Linked DNA regions of Homo sapiens. The protein of the gene in region 4 interacts with the protein of the main gene of each other region in a pairwise test. Each region holds a gene or a part of one and is shown on either strand. Other genes may lie near its edges.

Region 1 (7,430 bases), on a different chromosome or scaffold from region 4:
CAGGTAGAGCCAGGCTGGGGCAGGTGAGCACTCGGGGAGCTTATCCACCCTCTCTTTTCATCGGCACGACGATCTGCAGCTTGTCCGGCTGGCGGCAGGGAGGGCCCCGTGGGGGCACTCACCTTTCTGGAGCATCTTCCACCTCAGCTGCCGCCTGTAATGGGCATCTTGCCAGTTGGCCAGCTGCTGGAGGACATAATTCATGTCCAGGTGTGAAGGGCCCAAGCCGCTGGCCTCCAGGGCTGATGTCACCACGTTCATCCGCGTTGCCTCATCCAGCTCCAGTTCCACCTCCTCCCAGCCCTCGGTCTCCTCTGACACCAGCTCTGCCTCTTCCATCACCCCTTCCTCAGCCGGCACCTTCTTGGCAGCCCCCAGCTCCTCCTGGGGCACGAACTCCTCCGCAGGCGTGAAATCTTCCCCCCGCATGATATCCGCTGCCAGCATCAACCCTTCCTCAGCCTCAAACCCCCGCACCTGCTCTCGATCCTCACTGTAGCGAAAATCATACCTGGGCGGGAGATAGCGACATCTTTTGAGGGGCTGGAAAGTCCAACCCCCCAGGCCCACCCCCACCCGTCTCCACACAGATCCTGATGGTTCCTCCTGGTTCTGTCCCAGCCAGGGGAGAGGGGAGCTAGGTACCAGCTCCAAGGCTTCAAATACCCAGCCCATCCCCCTGGTGGGAGGGAGGAAGAATGGTCACCAACACTGCATAGGCCCCATCTTCTTTTATGTCCCTGACCCTGCACGGAATACACCAACAGGGTTAACACCCACTTCTGCCTCCCTCCTGCATGATTTAACCTTCATAGCCCACCCCACAGCTACTTGCCATAGGAACAAATCCATTCTAGACAGGCTCAGACAGGTCAAATGACTTGCCCAAGGACACACAGTCAGGAAAGGGACCACGCTGGGCCTTAGTCCCAGGTGTTCCCAGCTCCTAAGCCAGTGCCTGTCACCTCTCAGCCCATAGTCAGTTGAAAAGAAAGCTTCAGTCCCCACTCAGAGCTGCCTGGAATCAGACGGCCACCCAGGGGGCAAGATTTGAAGGAAAAGTGGGGCAGCTCCTTCCCAGAACAGTTCTCAGTTCAGCCAGCCGAGATAGCAGGGCCTTCTCCGGAGTTGCAGGGTGGCAGAACCAGAGGCAGGTGGGCTGTCTGGCTGCTGAAAGCTGAGGGCAGGTTGTAGGGGAGCCCCTGGCAGGCTTACCTTAGGCTGGATGTGTCCCCTCTGGGCATCTCATAATTCCTTCAAAGAGAAAAGGACCTTCATTATGAGACAATGGAAGCCGAAACTGCAGTCCCTGGGGCTTGGTCAAGCTGAAGAACCTTAGGTAGTGGCCATGAGCAGTGGCTCACGCCTGTAATCCCAGCACTTTGGGAGGCCGAGGTGGGCAGGTCACCTGAGGTCAGGAGTTCAAGACCAGCCTAGCCAACATGGTAAAACCCCGTCTCTACTAAAACTACAAAAATTAGCTGGGCTTGGCCAGGTGCAGTGGCTCACGCCTATAATCCCAACACTTTGAGAGGCCCAGGCGGGTGGATCACAAGGTCAGGAGTTCAAGACTAGCCTGGCCAACATCTCTACTGGCCCATCTCTACTAAAAATACAAAAATTAGCCGGGCGTGGTGATGGCCACCTGTAGTCCCAGCTACTCAGGAGGCTGAGGTAGGAGAATCGCTTGAACCCAGGAGGCGGAGGTTGCAGTAAGCCGAGATCACGCCAACCTGGACAACAAAACAAGACTCCATCTCAAAAAACAAAAAAAAAATTAGCCAGGCTCGTGCCTGTAGTCCCAACTACTTGGAAGGCTGAGGCAGGAGACTCGCTTGAACCCAGGAGATGGAGGTTGCAGTGAGCCAAGATCTCGCCACTGCACTCCAGTCCAGGTGACAGAGTGAGACTCGTCTCAAAAAAAAAAAAAAACCTCAGGCTGGGCATGATGGCTCACGCCTGTAATCCCAGCACTTTGGGAGGCTGAGGCGGGCAGATCACCTGAGGTCAGGAGCTTGAGACCAGCCTGGCCAACAGGGTGAAACTGTGTCTCTACTAAAAATACAAAAAGTAGCCGGGCGTGATGGCACATGCCTGTAATCCCAGCTACTCGGAAGGCTGAAGCAGGAGAATTGCTTGAACCTGGGAGGCAGAGGTTGCAGTGAGCCAAGATCATACCATTGCACTCCAGCTTGGGTGACAGAGCAAGACTCCATCTCAAAAAAAAAAAAAATACCTCAGGGGGAAGTGATGGGTCCATATTCATAGAGAAGCAATGAGTGGAGGGGCTGATGCAGTGAACGAGGCGGGTATAGGGAAGCGTGGAAGGTCAGAGTGTGAGGGCAAACCCCCTCCCCACTACAGGAAAGGCCATGGCCTATGGGGCAAGGGAGGGCCCCAGCCACGCACCTCTCCATAAAATACACAGGGTCTGAGATCATCCTCCTTAGAGACGTTCTGAGCTCCTCAGCCAGCGTCTCCTGGAAACCAGGAAGAGTCTCCTATGGTGGAGAGAACAGACGTTACCAGAGGACCCCCACAGAACCCCCACCCATAGGCTCAGGCACAGAAGGGAACTGGGATCTCAATCAGCCACCAAGGCTGAGACACAGGCACAGACGTAGGAAAGTGGGCAGCCAGGGGAGGGTCCTCACCAGAGGCACGCTGTATGGGTAATGGGTGGCAGACCCAGTGGACACTGGGGGTTGCTGGCGGAGGGTCTTCACCTCCTCCTGCATCTCAATCAGCATGCCCCCACAATCCATGTACTTCTCCCGCAGGTCCTGCAGCTGGGAACCCACCCACACGCTCTGCTGGGACCCAGGCACACCCAGTCCAGCACTCCTGCCTATCTGCTCTCAGGCTGAGGCCAGAGGCCCAGGTTCTGGACTCCAAGTGTCATGTGGGGGACCCAGGGCAGGTCCCTGCACTCCACACCACTCAGACCTTGATGGAACTGTCACCTGCTGGGCTGTGCCAGGCATGGAGGGGGTGGAAACGGACAAGACTCAGTTCCTGCTAGTCCTCTCCAGAGTCAGGTAGCTGCCAAGGGCCTGGGGTCCCCACTCTGGGCCAGCGGCTCTCCAGGGTGGGGGCAGAAGCCGGCAGCGAGACTCACCTCTTCCTGGAGCTGCATCTGGATTTCCTTCTCCGAAGCCAGCTGCTTCTGCAACTTTTCAGTCTCAGCCCCATACTGGAAGGACCCAAAACCAGTGAACCCCCATCTGAGGCCTACCCACTCAGGGCACCCCCTGCTTCCAGCAAGTCTTCCCAGGCACATCAGTGAGTCCTTGGCAGCCCATGAAATGACAAGTCACACGGAAGGAGGGCAAAGAAGGCAGGGGAGTCACGCAGCCTGGTTCCTAGAAGACTCCAGGACCCTCTCTGGGCCTTGGTCTCCTCAAGATAACAAGGGGTCAAGATAAGGGGCTCTCTGAGGTCTCTGACTCTGACACAGAAAGGGACCTCAGGCCTGGTGGAGCCGAGTGGAGGCAGGAAGAAGGAAGCTAGGGTCCCATGGGGCCACGACAAGAGGGTTCCACACACACCCGACTCACCATCCGGCAGCGCTGCTGCAGCTTCAGCACCTGGGCCTGCAGCCGAGCGACCTCCTGCTGCTGCCGTTCATAGTTTTCCAGCCTGAGCACCAGCACCTCCGACAGCTCAGCCATCTGTTGGCTGGCCTCCGCTGGGGAGGGCAGAGGACAGGTCAGCCCTGGCTCCCCTGGCCTTCAGGGACCAGCTCTGGCCCTCCCAGATGCCTCTGTCTCCCCCACCCTCGGCTGCTGCGCTGTGCCAGTGGGTCCTGCAGGGCTTTGCATTCCTCACTCAGGTCTTCCATTCAAGAAATGTTCATTGACTGATACTGAGCAGGGCACCAGGGTGAGTGGTCAGTAAGACCCAGCCGCCACACTGAGGTAAAGTTGGTGGGGAGACAGACCACAGTCACACATCATACAGGCCATGATGGGCAAATGTCAAGGGTGTACAGGGCAGGGGCATCACAGCTACAGCACCCAACCCGACCTGCAAGGTAAGGAAGGATTCCTGGAAAAAGGAACCACTAAGCTAAGACCACAGGGCAAGTGAAGCTCACCCAGGCAAAGAAGGAAAAACATGGGTCCAAGCTGACTGGAAAGGCCCAGAGGCCATCATAAGACACTGGGACGGGGAGGGCCCAGAACAGTGCACACAGGCCAGACCACAGTAGTGGGCAAGGGGGTGGGGTTTATCCTTTGGCCAATGGAAAGCTATTTGGGAGTTTTAGGCACAGTAATGACGTGGTCAGACTTGGGTTTGTTGGTTTATTTATTTATTTATTTGAGACCGAATCTCTGTCGTCCAGGCAGGAGTGCAATAGTGCAATCTTGGCTCACTGTAACTGCCGCCCGAGTCCAAGCGATTTTCCTGCCTCAGCCTCCCGAGTACTTGGGATTACAGGCATGCGCCACCACGCCCAGTTAATTTTTGTATTTTTAGTAGAGACGGGGTTTCACCATGTTGGCCAGGCTGGTCTCAAACTCCTGACCTCAAGAGATCCACCTGCCTCTGCCTCCCAAAGTGCTGGGATTACAGGGGTGAGCCACTGCACCCGGCTACTTGTTTTTTAAGAAATGAGGTCTTGGGACAGGCACAGTGGCTCATGCCTGTAATCTCAGCGCTTTGGGAGGCTGAGGGGGATGGATCGCTTGAGGTCAGGATTTCAACACCAGCTTGCCCAACATGGTGAAACCCCATCTCTACTAAAAATACCAAAATTAGCTGTGCATGGTGGCGCATGCCTGTAATCCCAGCTACTCGGGAGGCTGAGGCAGGAGAATCGCTTAAACTCGGGAGGTGGAGGTTGCAGTGAGCAAAGACCACACCACTGCACTCCAGCCTGGGTTACAGAGGGAGCCTCCTTCTCAAAAAAAAAAAAAAAAAAAAAAAAAAAAAAGGAAATGCGGTCTTGGCCGGGCGTGGTGGCTCACACCTGTAATCCTAGCACTGCGGGAGGCCAAGGCGGGAGGATCACTTGAGGTCAGGAATTCAAGACCAACCTGGCCAACATGGTGAAACCCCATCTCTACTAAAAATACAAAAATTAGCTGGGCACGGTAGCACAGGCCTGTAATCCCAGCTACTCAGGAGGCTGAGGCAGGAGAATCACTTGAACCTGGGAGGCGGAGGTTGCAGTGAGCTGAGATCATGACATTGCTCTAGCTGGGCGACAGTGAGACTCCGTCAAAAAAAAAAAAAAAAAAAAATTTGCCAGGCGTGATGGCACACACCAGTAGTCCCAGCTACTCAGGAAGCTGAGGCAGGAGAATCACTTGAACCCAGGAGGCAGGGGTTGCAGTGAGCCAAGACTGCAACACTGTACTCCATCTCAAAAAAAAAAAGAAAGAAAGAGAGAGAGAGAGAGAGAGAGAAGGAAGAAAAGAAAGAAAAGAAAGAAAAGAAAAGAAAAGAAAAGAAAAGAAAAGAAAAGAAAGAAAGAAAGAAAAAATGAGGTCTTGCCAGGTTCCCAGGCTGGGGCTGGAGTACAGTGGCTATTCATAGGTGCGATCCTATTACTGATCAGCATGGGAGTTTTGACCTGCTCTGTTTCTGACCTGAGCCAGTTCACCCCTCCTCAGGCAACCCAGTGGTACTCCACTCCCTGGACCATACTGACCCTGTCGGCATAGTGTACTACAGCCCAGAATTCACAGGCTCAAGCAATCCTCCCACCTCAGCCTCCTGAGTAGCTGGGACCACAGGTGGGAGCCCCTGCACCTGGCCAGGTTTGGTTTTAGAAAACTCATTAAGGCTGTGTGCAGAAGTTCCTGGTAGGGCGCGAGTAGAGGCAGTGCGACCAGTTAAGAGGTATCTTGGGCTAGAGGCAGCCCGAGTGGGGAGGGGGAAAAAGACTTAAGCCATTCCTAGGAGGTAAAAGCAACAGAGCTTGGGGACTGGTTCCTACTCCAGTAGCCTGGGGACCAGTGGGGCCATTCAGGGAGTTGCAGAACCCAGCAGGAAGGAAGGTCAGTTCTGGGGTAAAGGGAACAGCAGGAGTTCAGCTGTTGCCACTTTGCGTTTGCATCTCACCAGCTACACTTGAACTCCTCAGGCACAAACACTGCTCCTCACTCATCTTCATAAACACACAGTGCCTAGGACGATGCCAGGCACAGCCACTGCCCCGTGCATGACTCTGAACTGTCCCAGCCCTGGGTGCCTGGTCTCTGGCAGCTCATGGCTCCCTCTTGCCTGCCCCAAATAAGAGAAGACAGGCTTGGAGGAGACCCACCTTTTTTTTTTTTTGAGATGGAGTCTTGCTCTGTCGCCCAGGCTGGGGTGCAGTGGCGTGATCTAGGCTCACTGCAAACTCTGTCTCCCAGGTTCAAGCAATTCTCCCACCTCAGCCTCCCAAGGAGCTGGGACTACAGGCTTGTGCCACTGCATCTGGCTAATTTTTGTATTTTTAGTAGAGATAGGGTTTCTCTAAGTTGGTTAGGCTGGTCTCAAACTCCTGACCTCAGGTGATCCGCCGGCCTCAGCCTCCCAAACTGTTGGGATTACAGGCATGAGCCACCGTGCCTGGCCTGAGACCCACAATTTCTGTATAGCTCTTTATAGTTTGCACAAAGTACTTCCTCAGCTGTTGACACTCTTAATCTTCATAAACCCTGGAGAGATCAGTGGGGCTGAGAAAATTAATCCCCATTCTAAAGACAAAGGTTCAGAGAGGTCAAGGAATGTATCCAAGTTCACACAGCTAGGAGTGCCAGATCTGGGACTTGAACTTGGATCTCCATACTCCACATCTTGAGTTCTTTTCTCTGCTCCTTGGGACAACCCCCCACCCCGAGTGACAACATTACGTACAAAACTGCTCCACACACTCCAGAATGAGCATCTGTTCCTCATCCTCAAGAGTGTCGAGTTGAGAGGCCTGGAGGGAGACAAAGAGGAAGGGACAGGGAAGTCAACACCCCCTGCTAGCAGGGACGCCCTCCTCCCCCATTCTCACCTCTTCTCTCAGCTGATGATTCTCCTCCTCCAGCAGCCTCAGCTTCTCCTGCAAGGCTTCCAGCTGTGGGCAGTGGTGCTGGTGCAGCAATGCCTCCTGCGAAATCCTAGGGGAGGGAGGAATGGGAGTCAGGGTGCAGGGAGTGGGGCTTCCCAGTTCCCAGCCCACCAGGGCTAAGGGCAGTGTTCTCAATTAGTTCCAGCAACCCTGCCAGCAAGCACATCACCTGTGTCCCTCTTAACAAATGAGGAAATTGAGGCTCAGAGAAAGGACTTGCAGGTGCAAAGGCAGGAACTCACAGCTTAGGGGCATCACAGGGATGAGCACACTGCAGGTCTTCCTCTGCTTCTTCTTCTTCCTGTTCCTCTTCTGCCTCCTTTTCTTCCTCCTCCTCTTCTTCATCCTCATCCTCCTCATCAGAATCTGAGTAGAGCTG
Region 2 (7,966 bases), on a different chromosome or scaffold from region 4:
GCCTGCTCTCCAACTTCCCTGACATCATCCATCTACAAAAAGGTAAGGCCCAGTGCAGGCAGGAAACTCGTCCTGAGTCTGGCTCTCTGCTGGGCCCTGGGGAGATGGGGATGGCCTGGATAGAATGGAGCAACTTGTCTTTATTTCTCTGTCTCAATCATTCATTTAACAAATGTGTTGGGCTGGGCACGGTGGCTTACGCTTGTAATCTCAGCACTTTGGGAGGTTGAAGTAGGAGGATCACTTGGGCCCAGGAGGTTGAGACTACAGTGAGCCCGATTGTGCCACTGCACTCCAGCCTGGGTGACAGAGTGAGACCCTGTCTCTAAAACAAACAAACAAACAAACAAACAAACAAATGTGTTGAATATCAACTCTGTGTCTGTGGCAAATGTGCTTCTAGGTGCAGGGATATTGTTGTGCACAGGCCCGGTCTCTGTCCTCATGGAGCTTGATATTTACCTTCTTGTCAGTTCATTCATTTTCTCTGTTTGCATCTCGTTTACCCATCATGCATGGTGTCATGCTGGGTTCTGAGAACACATAGATGACCAGGCCCCAGGCCTTGCCCTTGAGGAGCCGGTAGGCCCTTGGGAGACACAGACCCAACCCAGATAACAAGAGCTCAGAGTGGGGGCCTGTCTTGTGCTCCTTGCAAGTTAACCTCCCCACCTTTGCAGCTTTGGAAGCTACTCTCACCACTGTGTATTCTCTTTATGAGCGTCTTGTCTGTGTGCAGGAAGATCCCTGTCCCCATTTTGCAGATGAAGGAGCTAGTGTCCACAGAAGAGTGGTTGCACAGCCTGTGGCCCGGCTGGGACTGTCCCTTCCTCCTGCCACCTCCCCAAGGACACGTCCATGTTGGCCACTTCCCAAGCCTAGCCATGTTTTCAGTTCTCATGACCCCCTCTGTGGGGGAGGGACAGGATGGGCCTCTGCCTGTTACTGCTGGGGCTGTCCATGAACTGCCGGGGAAATGACTCATCCTGGGTCACACAGGGGCACTCTGGCTGGGCCAGGGGTGCAGAATCAGGGGTCCAGGGCACTGTCCACATGGCCTATCCAACTCCTGCTTCCCAAGCCTGGCTTCTCTTCTTGCCTGAGGAGAGAGCCAGTGGCTGCCCCAGCAGGTGCCTGAGTCCTGGGCACAGCTGGGAGGGCAGATGTCAGGAGAGAGGTGTGATCCTCCCTGGGGCTGCTTGGTAACTCGTCTGCAGGGCGTGGAGCTGGCTCCCTGGCCCTTGGGCCCTGAGGTTAGACCTGGCTTGGTGGGGAGTTTGACTCTGGGTGGGGCCAGGGGGCAGACCTCTGCACTGAGCCTGGGGAACAGGAAACATGTCACCCACCACCACCAGGGAGGGCCTGGGGTAAGCTGGCCTTGCTTTCCTTTACCAAGAGGTTGACTTCTATAACTTCTCCAGCTCCCAGCCTCCTTTCTCCCCTTGCTATATCCTCTTCCTCTTCCTTTCTTTCTGTTTTTTTTTTTTTTTCTCTCATCTCTACCTTTCTTCCTCCTCCTCTGAACTCCAGGAAACACAAACCTGAGTGCTAGTCTTGGCTCTGCCCCTAGATTGCTGTGCGTCCCCGGGGAGTGCCTTTGCCCCTCTGGGCCTTAGTTTCCTGATCTGTAAAACAAGGGAATGGGGTCCCAGTGAGCCATCAGGCCTTCAAGGGAGTGGGTGGGAAGGGACTCCTGGGGAGGGTATGGCTCAGAAACAGAATGACACCTTAGCTCTGGCTCTGAGCACTGGGGCAGGAGTAGGGCAGGGGAGGTGGCCAGGCCTGCTGGGGGCCCACTGGGGCAGGTGTCTCCCTGAGCACAAGTGGGAAGGCTGGTTCAACCAGCTCCTTAGATGGCTTGTTCCTGTGCAGGCAGCAGGAGGGGGAATGCAATGATTAAACAGATGCTCCCATGCAGTGGCTGGGGACCCCCCACCCAGAGCAGAGCTGAGGACATTAGGGCAGCCCCACACCTAGGAAGGACACCAGGGCCTCCCAGGCTGGGGGGAAGCCAGACCAGCCTTTCTGACCCTGGGCAGAGAGACAGAGCTGAGATAGGCCATTTCTGAGTTTCTACTTGAGGTGTTTCTAAGAGTCAGAGGCCACTGTCCTCTGTGCTGGTGCATTTGACCTGAAACAGAGGCCAGCCCACTGCCTTCCCTCCCCGGGAGGACCCCTCCCAATGGGCCAAGCCCTCTCTGGCTTACTCTAAGTTCTGGGCTCTGCACTGCTCCTCCCAGGCCTGTGGTGTGGGGCAAGTTAGGGAGGGGGTACTGAGACAGAACTGGACAGGCTTTGGGGACCACAGCCCAATGGGAGTGATAAGGAGGGGGTCCTAATGCTGGCCTTAGGGGTGGAGCCCTTCTCAAAGAAAAGAGAAGAACAGTTGGGTCCTGGGCCCCCAGGATTCTGTCCAGCCTGTCTGGACATCTGAATGGGTGGTGAGTGTGTGGGAGGAAGGACAGTGGAGGCCTAGGTGGGAGTCAGGAGACCAGGATTTGGACAAACTTTGCATCTGACATGACTTTGGGAGAGATTTCTCCCCTCAGTCTCTAGGTGAGTAAAATGGGACCCGAGGGTCTTCATTTCCTTAGGAGGGCTCCATGTCATGTGAAACTTACATTAAACAAATTTGTATGCTTTTCAGAAAAATAATAAAATGAAATAAAATGGGACATAAACCCTGGCTGGAGCTGAGAGGAGCCTGGTCCTCCCACGGGCCTAGTCCCTGTAGCCCAATCCAGGGGTCTCCTAAGAGAAGGGTAACCATATAATTAACCAGGGCAGTTTGGGGCATAAAAGGGGGCCCTAGCAATAGTGATCCCGGGACAACAGGGGAAAGTAACTGTCCAGGGCAAGCTGGGACGTATGGACCCCCAACTTGACAGCCAGCAAGAGCGGGGCTGGTCCTAAGGCTCACGACAGGTCAGGAGGGCGATGTGGTCACTTCCGTTTTACAGACGAGGTGCAGCGATGCAGATGAGCCTCAGAGCAGGAGCTGGAGTCCAGTGTGTCTGGCTCCGCAGCCCAGGCTGTTTCCACTGTGCCCTCCCAGATGGGGGAGGGGATCCCCAGGGATGGAGAGCTGAGCCAGAAGGCGAAAGAGGAGGGAGGAAGGCTTGGGTGCTCCTTCACTGGTCCTGTGGGCTAGAGAGAGGCCCAGGACCACAGAGCTTCCATGGAGGGGCCATAGGGACAGCGTGGCCAAGGCAAAGTGGCGACTGTAGGGACAAGTTCTTGCCTGGGGGATGGGTGGGTTCAGCCTCTGGGTTCTGAGCCATCATCTAGCCTTCCCTCTACCGCTCATCCTGTAATCTCAGCACTTTGGGAGGCCGAAGTGGGCGGATCACAGGAGTTCGACACCAGCCTGGCTAACATAGTGAAACCCTGTCTCTACTAAAAATACAAAAAAATAGCCAGGCATGGTGGCAGGTGCCTGTAATCCCAGCTACTTGGAAGGCTGAGGCAGAAGAATTGCTTGAACCCAGCAGGCGGAGGTTGCAGTGAGCCGAGATCAAGCCACTGCACTCCAGCTTGGGCAGCAGAACAAGACTCCATCTCAAATTAAAAAAAAAAAAAAAAAAGAAAAGAAAAGCAGTTTTCAAGCCATAACATGTAGCATCTGGAGCTTCTATTGTATCTCAGGTGCGCTCCTTTGAACTGTGTACATATTAGTTCAGTTAAGCCTCAACTATACTATAGGGCAGGTACTATTATTATCCCATTTTACAGATGTGGAAACTCCTTAAAGCACTATACCGTGTGAGAGGTTGTCAACAGCATCACATCTAGTGCAACCTGTCCCACTGGGCAGTGGGGAGACCTGGAGCCCAGGCAAGAGCAGTGGCTTGCTGGAGAGGATACAGCTAGGACTAGGACTCAGACCTCCTGCTCCCTCCTGCCCCCAACCTGGGGTGGATGTTAACTGTCTCCAAGAGGCAGGGGCAAGATGGATTGAGGTGGGAGCTTAGGGAATATCCCTGGGACTTGCAGCTGGTGGGCTCCAACCCTCCTTTCTGCATTTTTGGGACCCAGCCTGTAAGAGGAGTGCTGAGGCAGGAGGTCCCCCTGGGTCCTCAGCTCTCAGGTTAAGTCTTAAGTAGAATGTCGGGGGGATGCTGGACAGGCCTGAGCCCTGACTCCCAGCCTGTGGGGTGGGGTGCATTAGCATTAGCTGGTCCTGGCCCCAGAGCTGAGTCACAGGGTGGAGGGGTAACGGAGAACAGGGTGGGGCCTCTGTTTCCCCCCGACCTCTGCAGCCTTTGCTCCCCATCCCTGGCCTCCTGCCTGTCTGTGGATACCTAACCATTGCAATGGGTTCATTCTTACTCTTTGGGCTCCTCATCAGCAAAAGAGGCCTTTCCTTCCTCTAAGGCCATGGACAGGAAAAGTCTATAGATGCACTTCCACTGTGCCAACTTTCTCGGCAGGTGGAATCCAGGCTAGTTCAGTATCTCCTCTTTAGCTAGGTTCCTTCTGCGGAAGTTTAACTCCAGTTTCTTCACCCTGCTGTTTTCTACCTTTCTTCTTACGGTTCTTCCTACTCCTTGGGACCTTCTTGAATCCCTGTGTCCAACGTCTGGGGGCCCCACACATATGCCTGAAGGACCTGGCATGGGCTCCCTGCAGCAGAAGTGGTGTCCGACCCCCAGCTGTGGAGGACCAGGCAGGAAAGAGGCTGGGAGTCCTGGGCAAGTTCCTGCCCCTCAGGGCCTTGGCCTCCTCTGTACAGTAGTAGGATGGAGGTGGAATCGAGGGTTGGACACCTGATCTTTTGGGCCTTTCTAGCTCTGAAGTCTCTTACTGGGTCCTATCCTGGGCCTTGGGGTGATCCCCCTTCTGCTGCCCAGGGCTGGGCTGTTGAGATGGTGCAGGAGGTGGTCCAGGGAAGGTGGCAGAAGGACTGAGTGGGCTGGGAGCTGGGGAATGCAGATTTCTTTTGGGCGCTGTGTGAGCAGCCCTGGAGACTCTCTGAACTTGAGTCTGTTTGCCTGAAATGCTACTATTAGCCGATTAGCCATGCACTTATCAACTAACATGGATGTTGCCCCTTCTAAAGGCATCCAGAGTTATTCCCAGCATGTAGAGCCCTGGGCCTGATATACAGTAAGTGCTCAATGAATGCATTTAGAATGCACTGGACAATTTGAGCCAGGGAGTGAAGAGAATATTATCTAGACAGCCCTCAAGAGCCCTCCTTAAAGGAGAAGTGGGAAAGCATGGGTATTGAGCATGCTATCTGTGTGTAGTGGGTGCGTTTGCAGTGCTCAGGGGTGTGCTGTCCTCTATGCCAACCCTTCCCTGCTCCTAATCTTCTTTGTATGGTGGATTCTCTGCAGCCCTCGGCGACTGAGTGCCAGGCACAGGCAAACTTCCTTCTCTTCCCAGCAACTGTCCCCACTGGCTTAAAGGCAGAATTCGTCAAGTCCCTTTTAATTCAGAACTGAAATTCATTCACCAGCTGCTTGTTCATTCATTCAGATTCTTCTAAATTGGGTCCTCTGCCCAGGTTCATCTCCACCCCCCATCTGTCACCTGGTTATTACACAACCTCCTCGAGTTCCCTGGGGGCTGGGATGAGGAGGGAACAGGGCGTGCATGTCTGGGAGATACACCAGGTGGCCTTTGAAGAGTTGTTTTAGAATCAGCAGTGTGATGGGGGTGGGGGTGGGGAGCCAGGGCACAGGTGACATGGGAGAGACATTCTGTCAGGGGAACTGGGAGAGGCTCCAGTGTAGAAGTGGCACCTGATCGGGGCCATGAATTATGAATAGGAATCCAGGGGGCAGAGGTAGGAAGGTAGGAAAGAGCCAGGTGAGTTTGACGAACATGGGGGTCAGTGTGGAATGCGTGCAGGGGCCAACTCCCAGAGGTGAGGGCCCCCCAGGCCAGGCAGATTGGTGTGGACCTTGATCTGTAGGTAGTGGAGAGCTAGGAAAGGTGCCCAGCTTGGGATACCTCTTTAGATGCTGCAGAGAACCTGTCAGAGGCTGGGGCGGAGGGCAGGGAGACGTGGCGGGGCTGTTGTAGCAGTCCAGTGAGGGACAGGGTTGAATCAGTTCAGCAGGCCTATATCAGGATCTGCTGTGGGCCAGGCCTTGTTCTGGGTACCAGAGACACAGAGAGGTTGAGGACAGGCTCTATCCTCATTGAATTCATAGTCCATCAAGCAGGGCTGTGACTGGTCACATGTGGGCTACTGGTGGCACTGCACATTTGGAGAGAAGATGATGTGCTTGGTTTAGGAGGTGCTGAGGGTGATGGCTTGGGTAACATCCTGGCAGAGACACCCAGGTGGCTGGAATGTGGGTCTGGGGCTCAGGAATGACGTCCGAGTTGAGCTGATGAGGGTGCTGTCTGCCCTCAAGGGTACAGGGAGCACATGGAGATCAGAGCCCTCACACGCTGTCCTCTGCTCTGCCTATGCCAGGCGCCTTCGCCAAGGTGAAGGAGAGCCAACGCATGAGTGACGAGGGCCGCATGGTGCAGGACGAGGCAGACGGCATTCGCAGGCGCTGCCGCGTGGTGGGTTTCGCCCTGCAGGCCGAGATGAACCACTTCCACCAGCGCCGTGAGCTCGACTTCAAGCACATGATGCAGAACTACTTGCGCCAGCAGATCCTCTTCTACCAGCGGGTGGGCCAGCAGCTGGAGAAGACCCTGCGCATGTATGACAACCTCTGACCGCGTGTGCCTGGGCCCCCTCCTTCCCCTGGGCCTGGTCACTGCAGTGTACCCCACTTTCCCGACCTCCCTATACCAGCAGTGACTGGGGGAGGGGTCAGCGGTGGGGGAGATAAGCGGCCTGTCCTGCCTCCTGGGAGAAGGAGCTTTCAAGGAGTCATGGGTGCCCCTGGGAAATTCCCCACTCCTTAGAAGTGGGGCACAGCAGGGGTGAGAATAGAGTCAGGAGCCCTCGAGGCCAAGGCCTGGGCTGCCGGTCAGTCAGTGAAGGTCAGGCCAGGGTCTCAGCCTCCCCTAGAGCCTATTTTGCTTGCTCACCTGGCCACTGCTGCCTTATCCATTCAGCAGACACCGAGGCCTGCTGCACCCTTGGGTCGGATGCTGGGCACCCAGGGCTGTGACATGCCTGCTCTTCAGGAGTCCTCAGTGAAGGTCGGGGTCAGACACAGACAGAGTCAATGCAGTATGACTGATGTTTAAGTGAGGGATTTCTGGAAGCTCATAGAAGGGACCACAGCATTCCACTGGTCAGGGAAGACTCCATAGAGTAGGCAACATTTGGGCAGTGTTTTGAAGAATGACAAGGGCCTGCCAGACAGTACATGGGGGAGAAGGACTTTCAGGGGAGAGGAACAGCATGGGCAAAGTTATGGAGGCATGCAAACATCTCCCTCTTCTCTCCCTTACTTTCCAAGCAAGTTAGGTACGCTTTCCATGGGGATTCTGGCCTGTGTGGTAGGAAGGGATCTCCCTTGCTCCCATGTTGCTGGCTGTCCGTACATCACCCTGTCCCCTGCAGGAGGGGGCTACAGGCCATCTCCCTCCTGTAGGCCTCTGACTCCCCTCCACTTTTGGGCCCTCAGCTTATCTCGGGCAGGGGACCATTGCAGCATCCTCCCCTCCTCGGACTCAAGGTGCTGAGGTATAAGCCCTGGGCCCCAGATCCCTGGTGACACCTTCCTGGAGAAGACTCTCAAAAGTGACTGTATATTTGAGTTCACCAGCAATAACTCCCCACACTCGAAGCAGGTCCAAACCCAGGATCTCAGGGTCCTTGGGCTCTGTGGCACTGTCTTCCCAAGATCCTTCCTGTTGCACAATGGGAAACCTAAGAGGAAAAAGACAGGGGCCTGCTTGCCCAGCCATGCGAGGGATTCCATGCCCACCTGCCCTCTGTCTGCCTCGCTGGAATGTGGGCCCCTGCTCCCCGTCAGGTTGTGCTGTCTCTGACCTATGTTTACATCCCCGAGGGGTTTCTGCCTCCTCCCCACCCAGGTCAGGG
Region 3 (7,966 bases), on a different chromosome or scaffold from region 4:
AAAAAAAATCAGAATGCAGAGGATGAAATATGATTTGCTTTAGGTTTCTATTGACATATGTGTCCTGGGTCACAACATACATATATTTCTTATTGTGGGTCAAGGCCCAGAATTTGAAAATGCTGTCCAGGCTGGGCGTGGTGGCTAAAGCCTATAAACCTATAATCCCAGCACTTTGAGAAGCTGAAGTTGGAGGACTGCTTGAGCCCAGGAGTTCAAAACCAGCCTAGGCAATACAGCGAAACCCCATCTTTGAAAATAAATAAATAAATAAAAAGGAAAGAAAGAAAATGCTGTCCCGCGTAACTTGCTGCTCTAAGCACACAGCAGGCAGGCAATGAACTATTTGTTAATTAACTTCTAGAAGCACAGGATTTAACTGAAGCAGCAAGCTGAGAAATCATTTTGTTTCCAGTTACATCCCATTAACTCAAGCTGTGTCAAAACAGCTAAAAACCCTTTCCTGCGTTAGCACACTTGGGCCTAACCTTAAGTCAGCCTGCAGGCCTTTCTTATCAGATGTTTAATTACTCATCAGGAAAGATACTGCTGGCTTTCCCCCCTGATGCCAGGGAGGGAAGCGTGTTCACAGAAGACTCCAAATAGGGCAAGCGATTGTCCTGGCTTGCCTGGGATTGAGGTGTTTCCCAGGACTAGGGACATTTTGTGCTAAAACCAGGACAGACTTGGGCAAACCAGGGCAGCTGGTCATCCTAAATCTGAGCAAAGACTTTAAGACAACCTTGGACAGACCTGGGAGAGCTGACACTGCTGTGCTGTGTGGCAGATGTGCAGTGTTGCTCACTGCAGCGTGAGCAACAGGGACAAACCCAGCCTGAGAAAAATTGTAGTAAGACAGAGATCGCTCTGATGCCATCCAAACAGCAACAGCAAACACTGCATTGCAAAGTGTGCCTCATGCCCTTAAACAAAACCTTTCTCTGATTATTCAACAACTAATCTGGAAAGCAAAGGACAAAGGAAACTTACTGTAAAAACGTCATCATCGCCAAGCTCAGCTTCATTATGGATGGTGGAAGATGACGTTGTTGAACCTAAAAAGACAAAAATGTAATAAAAAGTGTTTCCCAAGAGGATACATCAAATCCAACCGTTTAAAAAAGTATATTTTAATAAAACCACATTCCATTCTTTTTGCATGTGAATTACCAACAGAAACAAGTTACCTGGGAATTGAGTGCTTTTAATTTACTCTTCTTTAATTGATTCTTGCCAGGATGCTCCCTAAATTAACTTTGCCTGCTGTTGTTCCCAATTAATCTCTCAAACTTCTGCACTCGCTGCTAGAGAATAAGCACACAGAAAGGCACTGTGGAGGAGGTGAGGGGAGAGGCTGCCCACTCCTCTGAGGGACATGCATCGAGCCCAGCCTCTGTAGTGACCTTGAGGTCCCAGCCGTGTAGTGGGAAAAGCACTGGACGGGGAACCCCTAAGTGAGACCTGCCACAATCTACTGTGTAAACTGGATTTAGCTCCTCTGGTCTTTTCACCTACCAATGAAGGCATTTTAGCTCAATAGCTTGTATGGTTGTGTCCAGTTCTGAATTCAGATGTTGTATTTCTAAATCCCAAATTGTGGGCTCCCTTCTAAGGGGACACCTGTGCAAGGGGGTTTCCTCTTGCAATACCAAGGCATCAGTGAGTTTGCTTTGTTTTTCCAAGTCAAAATTACAGCTCTTGTTAGAAAACCCTCCTTATTCCATCATGGAACCAATTGGATTTTAGAGTTCAATGTAATTACTTGTTCACCTTTTTCTTCATTCTGGTATGCGAATCAGGTACAACTGCCCTACTTCCCCCCACCACCCTGAATAGCAGACAATAATGCATGGATCAACTTAATTGGCCAAAAGAAAGACATATTTAAAATTGCATCAGTGACAGATATACCAAAAGGGAAATTTATTCTCTATCTTTTCCTTTTCTTGGTTAGATCTTTTAAAATATGCATTTAGAAAATATTTTGCTGGCCAGACGCAGTGGCTCACGCCTGCAATCCGAGCACTTTGGGAGGCTGAGGCCGGCAGATCACGAGGTCAGGAGTTCAAGACCAGCCTGGCCAACATAGTGAAACCCTGTCTCTACTAAAAATACAAAAATTAGCTGGGTGTGATGGCGGGCGCCTGTAATCCTAGCTACTGGGGAGGCTGAGGCATGAGAATCGCTTGAACCTGGGAGACGGAGGTTGCAGTGAGCCGAGATGGCACCACTGCACTCCAGCCTGGGCTGGAGACTCCATCTCAAAAAAAAAAAAAAAAGAAAAAGAAAATATTTTGCTATTACATGAAATTGAAATGAAAACAATTGCTCAGAAAGGATGAGAAATACTTAAATTTCCAACGAGAGACTGCAGGAGAAAAAACAACAGTCCCATAGTATGTTCTGTGCAACTCCTACTGGTCTTTCGGGAGCTGTCTCTACTCTGAATTACTCCAATCAACCAATGTTCTAGGAAAACTGGTGGAAAAAAAAGCTAGATAGTATGTATATAGAGAAAAAAATTACAAGTAGGAGAATGAAATGTTGTGCAATTAAGTACATGGACACAATGCGAACGTCTATCAATAATATAGGAGCTGTTTTTTCTCTAAACATGAAAAAGCTGTGTTTAATAACATTTTAAATATTTGCCACTTATGTCAGAACTATGATTTGAACACTGGTTTTTATTATCTCTTTTTGGCTATCTCATACTTGTTTATGGATTCATGTTCTAGCTAGTCTTGTCTTACTACTGATTATAATGTTAAGTAATTTGTCTTTTAAGACTTGCTTTTTTTCCTCTTCCCCCAAATCCACAATGAAGAAAATGACTTCAGAACACTTTTATTTCTTAAGCAAATGAAACATACATCCTTTTGTGATTAATTTCCCCAAGATCTGAATTTGGTATTAACATGCCTTGCTTGATATTTCTTTCTTCACAGGGCCCTGTCTATGGCTTCTTTAACCCTCTGATTTGATACCTGGATGTGCTGCAGTGGAGAATTTTTGTGTTTGCATCTGTGGACTCTAGTCAAGCCCACCATGAGAACTGACTGCCCAAGGGCCCTCCAGGCCACGATCAGATGTAACACAATGCCTACTACTCACTTACCCATAGACCAAGGCCTAAACCGAACCAGGGCTCCAGAGGTCACAGATCCCTTTCCTTTTCAGTGGCAGCTGTACACCCTGGGCCTCTGATTACAGGAGGACAGTGGGTAGGCCAGGAGCCTTCTGGGCCCGCCAGAATCCATTCTCTACTTCTGAGCCAAGACAGACCAGACCAAAGCCATTTCAATAGTCAGGACAAGGTGAAAGCAGTCAAAAATACATGCACATGGAAATCCAGAACCTGCCTGTTTTTTCACAGCAGAGTCTAAAAATCAATTGGGATTACTCCTTACTCTGAAACCCATCTCCTTTTCCCTGAATTGTCACTTTAATTACTCTCCTTGGAAATTCCAAAAGTTTTGGCATCTACTGACCTGGTCCCAAACCCTCCCGCAAATAAACCACAAATAAATGATGGCAGACTATTGGAATTAAAAATAATTTGGAACATTTCCATAGTCCCACTAAGAATGCAGCGACAAGTTCAATACCTTCTATAAGGTCTTCGATTGCTTTCCTTACTCCCCTGTCAAAGGCTCGGGCATCAGCAGGGCTTTGGAAAGTAAGTCCAAACTTCCTATTATCGACCTTCCAGTGATGAAACGTTGGATTGGCTTTGGTGTAGACCAAGTCCTTTCTTACATAGCATTCCAATACCACCTGAAGGATGGAAACACACAGGCTGGTTACTAGTGGAACAGCCATGATGATGTCTGGTTACAGAAGTCTAATTAGGAACCATCACTGGTGGCAACTACCAAAACCCCTCTAACCCCTGCCTTCACATATCTGTGAGTCTCTCCAATGGGAAAGGAGGCTTTGCTTGGCTGCTGACCATCCGATCTTCGCTGCTCCCCACTGTCCTGGTTGTACCCCTTCACTACACTCTCTTCATCACGGTTATTCCTCTTCCTCCTGGCTGCAGGGCACTAAGTTGATGCTCAGGTCTTGGGTCTTGGCTGTATTTCAGATTACTGCTTTTATGTTGGGGTTTTTATATTGATGGTCATCTAGCTTCCCTCCCCCGAGGCTCCAAATTCCAAAAGTTGAAAAATTAACTTTACTCTAAAATTTCTCCTCTCCCAACTTCTGGCAATACCAATCCCTCTCCACTCTTTTTCTCTGGCTCATCATCTCTGTGGTCATCTTTGCCTCCTCTGCCTATCTCCTGTATTATTAATCACCAGGTCCATTTCATTTTTCCTTCAACAGCTTTTATATCAACCCCATTTCAGTTGCTGCCACCCTGATCTGGGTCTCTATTAACTTTATGTTTGGATTAATAGAACAATATTCAAGTTTCTAGCAATTTAATCTCAGAACTGGCTTTTACTGAGTTGTAATGAGTAGATTGATCTTTTTATCTCTAAGATGGAAAGAACACCAATGTTATCAATGAGAACAAGAACATGCTCTGAAAACACTGAATAAATGAGAAACCTAATTCACATTCATTGTCCAGTATATCTTCCCTGTCAAGTTTTATATGTACTCCAATTCTCCTTCTTGTCATCTTCACAATTTAGTACCTGATTTCAAACTATTCTTTAACAGTTTCATGTGTATTAGTCTTGTTCCCCTAACTAGACTACAAAAAGTCAAGATTATAAAATAACCCCGTCTAGCACAGTTGATAGAGATACTAGAATTTATTTAATATTATAGAAAAGAAACATTGCAATAATTTGAACGTAAACTTCATTCTTTATTCATTAAAAAACTCAGACTACTTACAATATTTATTCCTATGGCTTCATTACAAACACCATAATGATTTTGCTAAGTTTTAATAGCCCAATCTTGTTCTGGCAAAGATCTGCATTTACCGCAATGTGATCTTATTAATTTAGACTAAATGAAGGACAAGAGTAAAGACCTGCCTAAATTAGTATACAGATAAATTAGAGAATATCTTTAAATAAGTATAAATTCTAAGAATAGATCAAAGCAAAAAGAAGGAGGCCAGTACAGTGGCTCATGCCTGTAATCCCAGCACTTTTGGGGGCTGAGGCAAGAGGATCACTTGAGCCCAGGAGTTTGAGACCAGCCTGGGCAACATGGCAGGACCCTGTCTCTAACTAAAATACAAAAATTAGCTGGGTGTGGTGGCACACATCTGTAGTCCCAGCTACTCAGGAGATTGAGGTGGGAGGAACGCTTGAGCCTGGGAGGCTGAGGCTGCAGTGAGCTGAGAAGGTGCACCACTACACTCCAGCCCAGGTGACAGAGTGAGACTCTGTCTCAACAAAAGGAAAAAACAAACGAGAAATAAATTAAGGGTTGTCTAATGAATGTTCCCTAACTTAATAAAAAAATGAGAATAATATTCAAATTGGTATATCAAATAGTAGTCCCAAGCAGTTAACTTTATTACATTGTATTGAGATCGGACAACAGTTCCCTCCCATAATTCTATTTATGATTAAATTGCTTATTATAGCCATTTCCCCCTAAGAATAGCACAATGATTAAATGTCAGCCCAGCCCCATTCCACATTGGGGAAATCCAAATAATCAAGAATTTAACAAATGTTATCTATTTTAGAATTTAATAGTCTCAATTCAAAGTCTCAAAATAAACTTTTTGTATTCTAAAAACAAAGACTCCTAGTTTCTCCATATTTTGGGGGTGAAAAAATTAGTCTTTGGTTGATATTTTCCAACTTTGAAATTATTCCAAAGGTACATTTTCTTAGAAAAGTTTAAGTAAAATGGCCGGGCGCGGTGGCTCACGCCTGTAATACCAGCCCTTTGGGAGGCCGAGGCGGGCGGATCATGAGGTCAGGAGATCGAGACCATCGTGGCTAACACGGTGAAACCTCATCTCTACTAAAAATACAAAAAATTAGCCGGGCATGGTGGCGGGCACCTGTAGTCCCAGCTACTAGGGAGGCTGAGGCAGGAGAATAGCGTGAACCCGGGAGGCGGAGCTTGCAGTGGGCCGAGATCGTGCCACTGCAGTCCAGCCTGGGCGAAAGAGCAAGACTCTGTCTCAAAAAAAAAATAAAGTTTGAGTAAAATAAGTTCAGCCACCTAAATTAAGTGAGGGGGGAAATCAGATACCATCTCTTTATGTCCTCTAAAGCAAAATAGTATCATATGTATCTAAGTTTAAAGACAAAAATGAAAAGGTTTTAGATGCTTTAATCTTCCCAACAGATATAAACTCTCTGGTGAAGTTTTGGCACGCACACAATTAGACACTAACTTAAAACTTGAGAAAGGCTTTAAAAAATACCCGTTTAAATAAGATGCATACGGAGAAAAAAAGTGATTATGTTCTTGTTCGAGACTTGAAAAAAAAAACTACACAAGAAATACATGTTGTGGGAGATTTAAGTATTAGCTGAAGACATGAGGACTCCATTCCTACTCATCTCTCCCCTCCACCGTCAACATCCCTCTCTGTCGAGTTCCCCACTGTCAGTAGAGCGGGCACAATCCCAGTTTCCATTTTGTGGCTTCTTTACATATACACAGGTAAGTTTCTGTGTAAGGGCAACTGTGTTTAAATGTAGCCACACCTATAAGTTGTTTTTAACTTGCTTTTTATTTTCCTTAAAAATATGTCATAGAGATACAGGAAGGTAAAATAATTGTTTAATTCATCTGTATGGATGTATTAGATTTATTCAACCATTCTCCATACTAACGGACATTTATGTCAGTAAGAATTGGTCACCTTGAAGGCAATGCTGCAATTTACATCCTTATCTATATTTGAAGTATAAATTAGAATTCTAGACAGCTTCCTGGTACTTAAAGACTTTTCTAATGAGTCAGTGGCAATATTAAAAAATGTAGTTTTTTTGATATTAATGAGTCAGTGGCGATATTAAGAAATGTAGTTTTTTTATATTAATGAGTTAGTGGCAATACTAAGAAATGTAGTTTTTTGATATTATAGAATAAAATGTATCAACATTTGGAAGATCTGCTTAACTCAGTGGAGCACTATTTTTCAGGTGACCAGTGCATGATGTTACAAAATCAGGGATGAGTAAGAGATCTATTGAAAGTGAAAGAGTCCCTCTCCCTCTCCCGTCTCCCTCTCCCGTCTCCCGTCTCCCTCTCCCTCTCCCGTCTCCCTCTCCCTCTCCCGTCTCCCTCTCCCTCTCCCGTCTCCCTCTCCCGTCTCCCTCTCCCTCTCCCGTCTCCCTCTCCCTCTCCCGTCTCCCTCTCCCTCTCCCGTCTCCCTCTCCCTCTCCTTTCCACGGTCTCCCTCTCATGCCGGGCCAAAGCTGGACTGTACTGCTGCCATCTCGGCTCGCTGCAGCCTCCCTGCCTGATTCTCCTGCCTCAGCCTGCCGAGTGCCTGCGATTGCAGGCGCGCGCCGCCACGCCTGACTGGTTTTTGTGTTTTTTTGGTGGGGACGGGGTTTCGCTGTGTTGGCCGGACTGGTCTCCAGCTCCTAGCCGCGAGTGATCCGCCAGCCTCGGCCTCCCGAGGTGCCGGGATTGCAGACGGAGTCTCATTCACTCAGTGCTCAATGGTGCCCAGGCTGGAGTGCAGTGGCGTGATCTCGGCTCGCTACGGCCTCCACCTCCCAGCCGCCTGCCTTGGCCCCCCAAAGTGCGGAGATTGCAGCCTCTGCCCGGCCGCCACCCCGTCTGGGAAGTGAGGAGCGTCTCTGCCTGGCTGCCCATCGTCTGGGATGTGAGGAGCCCCTCTGCCTGGCTGCCCAGTCTGGAAAGTGAGGAGCGTCTCTGCCCGGCCGCCATCCCACCTGGGAAGTGAGGAGCGCCTCCTCCCGGCCGCCATCCCATCTAGGAAGTGAGGAGCGTCTCTGCCCGGCAGCCCATCGTCTGAGATGTGGGGAGCGCCTCTGCCCCGCCGCCCCGTCCGGGA
Region 4 (7,849 bases):
AAGGGGAACTGACTTTGCCTGAGGTGTTGCTTGCCCCTTACAAATGCCTTATAACCCACCCATTTTACAACAAAGGCATCTGAATCCAGAGGAGTGACAAAGCTTGTCCAAGGCCTGGCAACTTGTAAGAAGTGGGTCAGGGATGGGTCTGAATCTTGGGCTTTTTTTGTTTTTCTTTTTGAGATGGGGTCTCGCTCTGTCACCCAGACTGGAAGGCAGTGGCACCATCACAGCTCATGGCAGCCTTGACCTGCCAGCTCAAGTGATCCACCTTCCTCAGTCTCCCAAGTAGCTGGGACTAAGGTACATGCCACCACAGCCAGCTTTTTTTTTTTTTTTGGTAGAGATGGTGTCTCGCTATGTTGCCCAGACTGCTCTTGAACTGGCCTCAAGCTAACCAAAGTGCTGGCATTATAGGCGTGAACCACCACACCCAGCCTGAAGCTTGGGCTTTTGAATGTCTTTAAATGGTCAGTGGTATATACCCTTTGTTCTTGCTCTTATCACCTAGTGTATCGGAGATTTTTCCACATCAGTACATATAGCGCTTCCTTTTTTCCTATGGCTACCTATTCCATTCCATGGCTGTAATTCAATAGTCGGTCCCCTGTTCTTGGGCACTTGAGTTGCTTCCAGTCTTTGGCCACAACAGTCGCACTGCAGTGAACACCCTTAACACTATGCTTTTTTTTCACATTCATGAGTTTATAGAATAAATTCCTACAAGTGGAAGAGTTGAGACAAGCATGTATGTATTTTCAATTTCTTAGATACCGTCATATGGCCAAAGTGGAGACACCAGTTTAAACTTTTAACAAGAGAGCCTGTTTGCCCACAATCCTCATCAACCCACGATAGTAGCAGACTTTTTACCTTTGCCATGTAAGTGTGTGGGGAGAAGCAGAGCCAGCGCTGTCAAACCACAGCTCCACGTCCATGGTTTGAGATCTCCCCAAAGCAGGGGAGCAAAGAGTTCCTCGGGCTTCTGAGCTCGAGCCCAGTATAAATGGCCAATCCCTTGCCCTGCCCTCTGCCAGCTATCTGGAAGAGGCGAGCTCATACAGTCGGTCTTAGAAATCCCACCTCTTACTGGCTAGGGCTGGCGGCAGAAGGGGACAGTGAGCCAAGGGAGGGCTCAGTCTCTCTCCCCCTTGTGCTCCACCTGGTGGTGGCTGCGTTGATGAAGGAGCAGTAAGCGTCTCTGGCCAAAGGCCTGGCCGCAGCTGGAGCATCGGTGCCAGGCAGTCGCCTGGCTGCCGGGCGCGGTTGGGGGGTCGTGACATAGGCGATGGGCGGCCAGCTTGGAGGGAAATGAGAAAGCCTTGGGGCAATGCGGGCAAGGATAGGGGCGGGCGTCGGTGGCGTGGTGCGTGTGGCGGTGGGCCGCCAGCTTGGAAGGGTAGCAGAAGGACTTGGGGCAGTCGGGGCACGGGTAGGGGCGGGTGGGTGCGTGGGTCCAGAGGTGAGCCGCCAGCTTGGAGCGGTGGCCAAAGGACTTCGGGCAGTGTGGGCACGGGTGCGGGCGGGCGCCGCTGTGCGTGAGGCGGTGGGCTGCCAGCTTGGAGGGGTAGGAGAAGGCCTTGGGGCAGTCTGGGCATGGGTGGGGTCGGGCGCCTCCGTGTGCTAAGCGGTGCGTGGCCAGCTTGGACGGGTACGAGAAGGCCTTGTCACAGTCGGGGCAGCGGTGCGGGCGCTGGGGCGGGGGCCGCCGGCGAGGCCGGGGAGGCGAGCCCGCGGACGCGGTGGGCCCTGGAGCTGACTGGCTGGGCTTCTGCGGTGGGCCCTGGTGGGGAGCTGGGGGACAGGAGGGCTGGTGGGCTCCAGGAAGCAGCCAACGCCCTGGGCCTAGGCCAGGCTCCGCCACGACTTTGATATTCGTGGGGCTCCTCCAAGTGTACCTGGGCACCTCAAGCATCACATTGAGACTCCCCAAATTGCATGTTTCTGCTCCCCCCTCCCCCCAGGCGTCATTCTGAGGGACTCCAAAGGGTTACTTTCCTGGATCCCCAAAGCTACTAAGGCTTCCTCAAAGCTACCAAGGTATCCGTTTCTAGTATCTTCCCAGTGATCACCCTGACATCCCGCATGTCATCCCTGACCCGTCCCTTCTGTAAGGCTCATTTCCTGAGCCTTAGCAAATGGTCACTGAGGCTCTCTCTGAGCCAAATGGGAGGATTTCCCAGAATGTGGCAGTTTTGGGGATCCCAAATAGTCATCACCCTAGGGCCCTCAAATTTTCACCCTGAGATTCCCCCAGAATGTGATTATTTTGGCCCCCGTTCCTGGAGAATGCTCCCTACTCACAGGCGGGGCACTCTCACCTTCTTTGGTCACTGGTTCCTTGCCAGTGGGACTAGGATCGGTAGCCCCGGCCGCGGACTCCGCGCCTCGCTCCAGCATCTTGCTGGCACAGGAACCTAGGGGCAGGGCGCGGGGCGGGGGTGACGCCGGTGATGACCAGGCTGATGGGGATAGGGTTGGAGGGCCTAAAATGAGGGATCACACTGTTTAGGAGCAAGGTCTGCAAGTATGGGATGCTAAGGCGGGGGCAGGCTTAGCGGGGAGGCGGAGCCTAAGAGCACAGTGAGCGGGGCTATGCAAATTCAAGCCAGAGGCAGTCCCTTCGCTATCTAAACCCAGGGTTGGAGTCTTTCAGCAGAGTGGGCGGAGTCTCCACAACTAACTCAGCGGCCGTCTTAAGCGCGGAGCCGGCGGGGCCTATGCGCAGAGTGGGCGGGACCTTCCCCACCAGACCCTGCAGTCCTGGAATGGGCGGGGCTGTACAAAAAAAGTCTTGTTCTGAAACTAGACCCAGGGGGCGGGGGCCTTCGAGCGGAGTGGGCAGGTCTTTCATCACCGTCCCAGGGGAGGGGCCTATGGGCACAGTGGGCGGGGCTTCACGTCGAAGACCTAGCTTTACCCGGCTTTTGACTTAGTCTCAGTTCATTGACGCCGCGTCAACTGCGCCCTTCTTGCCGTTAAATTTCATCCCTGGCTTGGATGGGGCCGTGGAGGATAGAGGGGGGACCTGGAGGAAGATACGGAAGGAACCTGGCATGCGTCGCGGTCCAGAGACCCCTAATGGACTTTTCCCTCAGAGTCCCAAGCGTAAAGGATTCAATGCACCCCTCGGAATCAGACATTCAGGCACCGATGCACCCTCCCGAGGCTCTGGCACCAATGCACAGTCCCTCCAGCATCTCCAGAATCTAGGCGTCCGGACCACAACCGATCTCCCTCGGGGTGATTCTGGCATTCAGCCTGCAAGCCAATATCCGCGCCCGAACCCCTGCGCCCTCACCTGCAGGACGGCCCCTCCCCGGGGGCGGGGCTTCCGGCTCCTCCCGCCACGGCCACGGCCGCAGCCGCTGTCGCCGCTGCTGCACTGCCCTCGGACCAGCGGAGCTGCCCCGCCCGGCGCGCGTCCGGCGTCGGGGGAGGGCAGGCAAGGGAGCGCGCGCAAGCTGCTTAGCCCAACCTCATTTCCATCCCCTCCTCCCACGCTGGACCAAAGGGGGCGTCAGAAAGCATGCGCAGTGCGGGCTGGCAGAGGCTGCAGAGAGGGGGAAGAAGGAATGGAAGGAGGGGCTGGGTGCGCCAGCCAGGCAGGCAAGTTCGTGAGCAAGCGCGAAGCTACCGTATCGACAGAAAGTGCACCGCCGGTGGCGGGGCCTACGGTGGCTGACTGGAGTCAAGCATGTACAAGACTAACATGGACAAACTGCGCTTGGAAATCAGTGCATGCACCCGTCTTTTTAATGTCCCTCTTCTTTTCGAGAATTCCGCTGAGTTCCATCTCCAGAGGCAGTTTCAAGAGCTCGCTGCTAATTCTACCCTTCAAGGCGTTTGCAAAAAGTCTGGCCAGTTCTTCGAGAGAGGGCGGGGGCGGGACTCCGGGCTCAAAGAGAGCCAGTGCCCAATAAAAGGCACGTTATTTGCACAGCGCCTTGGCACACCTCGCTATTGGGTGATTCAAGATTCTCAGCCACGCACCCATCTACCTTCCCCCTCGGAAGCCTGGGTGGTCCCGAGGTGCCCTGGCCCATGCTCTTGGTGCCAGGCCTGGGGTGGCATGCAGCTTAGCATTCTTCCCGAGCAGTGGCGGTGCACCTTCCTGCCTGGTGCAGAAAGGACCAGGAAATGCCCATAAAAGTCCTCTGCATGGGTGGGTCTCAGTCCGATAACCCGCAAGGTCTGGCGATCCCTGGGAGTTTGGCGGGGTTATTTGGACTCTGGAGCCAGATTGCCTGGGTAACTGGTTTGGAATACGGCTGTGCCACTTTCTAGCCGTGTGACCCTTTCTAGCTCTCTTTCTAGGCCTGTTTCCTCATCTATAAAATGGAGCGTTTTTAGGATTAAATATGATAATCAATGGAAAGTGTTTAGACTAGAAAGTGCCTAGGCCGGGCTCCCTGTCTCATGCCTGTAATCCCAGCACTCTGGGAGGCAGAGGCGGGCGAATCACTTGAGCCCAGGATTTCCAAACTAGACGGGGGCTAGGCACGGTGGCTCACGCCTGTAATCCCAGCACTTTGGGAGGCGGAGGTGGACGGATCACCTGACGTCAGGAGTTCGAGACCAGCCTGGCCAACATGGTGAAAACCCGTCTCTACTAAAAATACAAAAATTAGTCAGGCATGGTGGCACACGCTTGTAATCTCAGCTACTCCGGAGGCTGAGGTGGGAGGATGGCTTGAACCTGGGAGGCAGAGGTTGCAGTGAGCCAAGATCAAGCCACTGCACTCCAGCCTGGGCAACAGAGTGAGACTCCGTCTCAAAAAAACAAAAAAACCAAAAACCCAAACAAACAAAAATCCCAGCCTAGGCAACATAGTGAGACACCTCCCCATCTTAAAAAAAAAAAAAAAAAAAAAAAAAAAGTCTGGCTTAATGGCAGCCTGTAGTCCCAGCTATTTCACGGGGGTAGGGAGTGGGGACTCACCCAGGAGTTCATGTCTGCAATGAGCTATGATTGTGTTACTGCATTCCAGCCTGCGCAACAGAGTGATACCCCGTATCTTTAAAAAAAAAGTTTTTAAAATAATTATTCACTCATGACCAGTATTGTTTGATTTACCCCCCATCCACTCTTCCCAAATGATTCTGAAGCTAAATGTCAAACATCATATCTCATAAATATCTTTTTATTACACTTGATTTGCTTGACTTAAGATCTAAATGAGCTCCACACATTGTATTAGTTTGAAGTGACACTTCGGTCTCTCTCTCTCTCTTTTTTTTGAGATGGAATCTCGCTGTGTCCCCCAGGCTGGAGTGCAGTGGCGCAATCTTGGCTCACTGCAACCTCTGCCTCCCGAGTTCAAGCGATTCTCCTGCTTCAGCCTCCCAAGTAGCTGGGATTACAGGTGTTCACCACAACACCCAGCTAATTTTTGTATTTTTAGTAGAGACAGGGTTTCACCATGTTGGCCAGGCTGGTCTCGATCTCCTGACCTCGTGATCCACCCGTCTTGGCCTCCCAAAGTGCTGGGATTACAGGGGTGAGCCACTGTGCCCACCTCTTTCTTTTTTTGCACGGAGTCTTGCTCTGTCACCCAAGCTGGTGTGCAGTGGCGAGATATCAGCCCACTGTAACCTCCACCTCCCAGGTTCAAGTGATTCTCCTGCTTCAACGTCCTGAGTAGCTGGGATTACAGGTGCCCGTCACCACGCCTGGCTAATTTTTTTTTTTTTTTTTGTATTTTTGGTAAAGATGGAGTTTCACCATGTTGGCCAGGCTGGTCTCAAACTCCTGACCTCAGGTGATCCGCCCACTTCGGCCTCCCATGGTGCTGGGATTTCAGGTGTGAGCCACCGCGCCCAACCTCTAGGGCCACAGCTATTTTCAAGAACCATGATTTTAAGAAGGCAGAGTAGAAGCCAGAAGACCAGTGAGGGTATTGTTATATATTAATTACAGTATTAATTGCTAGCACTTATTATACACTGGAAACTGTCCTTATGTGCATTAATTTATTTAATCCCCATAGCAATGTTTTAAGAGGAGGTGCTACTATCATCCTTGTACAGAGGAGGAAAATGAAGTGTGGAGGGGAAGGTCATCCCAGCCAGGAAGTATCAGAGCCAGGATTTGAATCCCTCAGCCTGGCCCTGCAGTCCAGGCAATTTGCATTTATGCTTTGCTGCCCCTTGAATGGGGCAGAGGGTGTGATAACAGAAAAGTGGCCTGGTTAAGATAGGTTAAATCTGGCTGGGCACGGTGGCTCGGCCCTGTAATCCCAGCACTTTGGGAGGCTGAGGCAGGTGGATTACTTGGGGTCAGGAGTTCCAGACCAGCCTGGCCAACATGGTGAAACCCCATCTTTACTAAAACTACAAAAATTAGCTGGGTGTGGTGGTGTGCACCTGTAATCCCAGCTACTTGGGAGGCTGGGGCAGAAGAATCTCTGGAACCCAGGAGGCGGAGGTTGCAGTGAGCTGAGATTGCACCACCGCACTCTAGCCTGGGCAACAGAGCAAGACTCCATCTCAAAAAAAAAAAAAAAAAAAAAGAGAGAGAGTTTAACTCAGCAGGGCCTGGAAGTGGGTGGAGGTGGCAAGGGTAGGAAGGAGTCAAGGATAGTGACAAAATAATGATGGGCAGTTCCCATTGAGAGCCTGTGCTATGTCAGGCTATTGAACTATTTTCAACCTCATTTTGTAGATAAGAAAACTGGAACCCAGAAGAAGATAAGTTTTCAGCCCAAGGTCCTACACCTGAGAAGGGTGAAGCCAAGTCTAACTCTTAGAACATCTCACAGCTGAGCCTATAAACCCTGCCTAGGGTGTGTCTTCAAAGGACACATAAATGGTCTAGAAATTCTGCAAAAACAACGGGAAAGGGTGCCAGGGGCGAGAAGTTCTTATTTGGGGGACCCTCTCAGTAAGGAGTGCCTGAGGGTCTTCCTTTCCCTGGCTCCTCCCTCCCCTGAGTTCCCCAAATCCCTACACCTCCCTGTGTCTCAGACCTGCTTTCCCTACCTCTCTCGCCTACCAGCCAGACTGAGTCACCTCTGGGTCCTCAGCTTTGTCTAGCTTGAGTCAGGCATGCATGAGACCTCATGCCTGGAATTTTTTTTTTTTTTGAGACGGAGTCTCGCTCTGTCGTCCAGGCTGGAGTGCAGTGGCACGATCCCGGCTCACTGCAAGCTCCGCCTCCCGGGTTCACGCCATTCTTCTGCCTCAGCCTCGAGAGTAGCTGGGACTACAGGCATCCGCCACCATGCCCGGCTAATTTTTTGTATTTTTTTTGAGTAGAGACGGGGTTTCACCGTGTTAGCCAGGATGGTCTCAATCTCCTGACCTCGTGATCCACCCGCCTTGGCCTCCCAAAGTGCTGGGATTACAGGCGTGAGCCACCGCACCTGGCCTTTTTTTTTTAGACACTCTCGCTCTGTTGCCCAGACAGGGTTTTGCTATGTTGCAGAGGTGCAATCTTGGATCACTGCAAACTCTGCAACCTCTGCCTCTTGGGTTCAAATGATTCTCATGCCTCAGCTTCCCAAGTAGCTGGGTCTACAGGCGTGCCCCACCACGCCCAGATAATTTTTTTGTATTTTATTTTATTTTTTTCAGTAGAGATGGGGTTTTACCATGTTGGCCAGGCTGTCTCAAACTCTTGACCTCAAGTGATCTGCCCACCTAGGCCTCCCAAAGTGCTCAAAGTGCCTGTGCATGAGCTCAGCCATATGCTTTTTTTTTTTTTTTTTTTTTTTTTTTGAGATGGAGTCTCCATCACCCAGGCTGGAATGCAGTGGCACGATCTCAGCTCACTGCAACCTCCACCTCCCGAGTTCAGGCAATTCTCCTGCCTCAGCCTCCTGAGTAGCTGGGATAACAGGTGTGCACC

Evidence for each region.
Region 1: the proteins of ZNF575 (region 4) and HAP1 interact in binary tests that used the Homo sapiens proteins (3 or more experiments, as listed by UniProt).
Region 2: the proteins of ZNF575 (region 4) and SNX33 interact in binary tests that used the Homo sapiens proteins (3 or more experiments, as listed by UniProt).
Region 3: the proteins of ZNF575 (region 4) and SPRED2 interact in binary tests that used the Homo sapiens proteins (3 or more experiments, as listed by UniProt).

Annotation. Positions count from the first base shown.
Region 1 is NC_000017.11:41,724,644-41,732,073, forward strand, and holds part of HAP1 (huntingtin-associated protein 1), read right to left. Parts: coding exon 7,294-7,430; intron 7,101-7,293; coding exon 6,995-7,100; intron 6,917-6,994; coding exon 6,850-6,916; intron 3,689-6,849; coding exon 3,558-3,688; intron 3,290-3,557; coding exon of another isoform or gene 3,194-3,289; coding exon 3,119-3,193; intron 2,790-3,118; coding exon of another isoform or gene 2,655-2,789; intron 2,502-2,654; coding exon 2,410-2,501; intron 1,255-2,409; coding exon 1,216-1,254; intron 512-1,215; coding exon 58-511; 3' UTR 1-57. UniProt on the Homo sapiens protein: Originally identified as neuronal protein that specifically associates with HTT/huntingtin and the binding is enhanced by an expanded polyglutamine repeat within HTT possibly affecting HAP1 interaction properties.
Region 2 is NC_000015.10:75,650,532-75,658,497, forward strand, and holds part of SNX33 (sorting nexin-33), read left to right. Parts: coding exon 1-42; intron 43-6,430; coding exon 6,431-6,684; 3' UTR 6,685-7,966. UniProt on the Homo sapiens protein: Plays a role in the reorganization of the cytoskeleton, endocytosis and cellular vesicle trafficking via its interactions with membranes, WASL, DNM1 and DNM2. Acts both during interphase and at the end of mitotic cell divisions.
Region 3 is NC_000002.12:65,330,997-65,338,962, forward strand, and holds part of SPRED2 (sprouty-related, EVH1 domain-containing protein 2), read right to left. Parts: intron 3,778-7,966; coding exon 3,609-3,777; intron 3,592-3,608; exon of another isoform or gene 3,123-3,591; coding exon of another isoform or gene 3,119-3,122; intron 1,056-3,118; coding exon 991-1,055; intron 1-990. UniProt on the Homo sapiens protein: Negatively regulates Ras signaling pathways and downstream activation of MAP kinases. Recruits and translocates NF1 to the cell membrane, thereby enabling NF1-dependent hydrolysis of active GTP-bound Ras to inactive GDP-bound Ras.
Region 4 is NC_000019.10:43,528,974-43,536,822, reverse strand, and holds ZNF575 (zinc finger protein 575), read right to left. Parts: upstream 3,636-7,849; 5' UTR 3,302-3,635; exon of another isoform or gene 3,029-3,301; 5' UTR 2,921-3,028; intron 2,487-2,920; 5' UTR 2,401-2,486; coding exon 2,322-2,400; intron 1,795-2,321; coding exon 1,136-1,794; 3' UTR 736-1,135; downstream 1-735. UniProt on the Homo sapiens protein: May be involved in transcriptional regulation.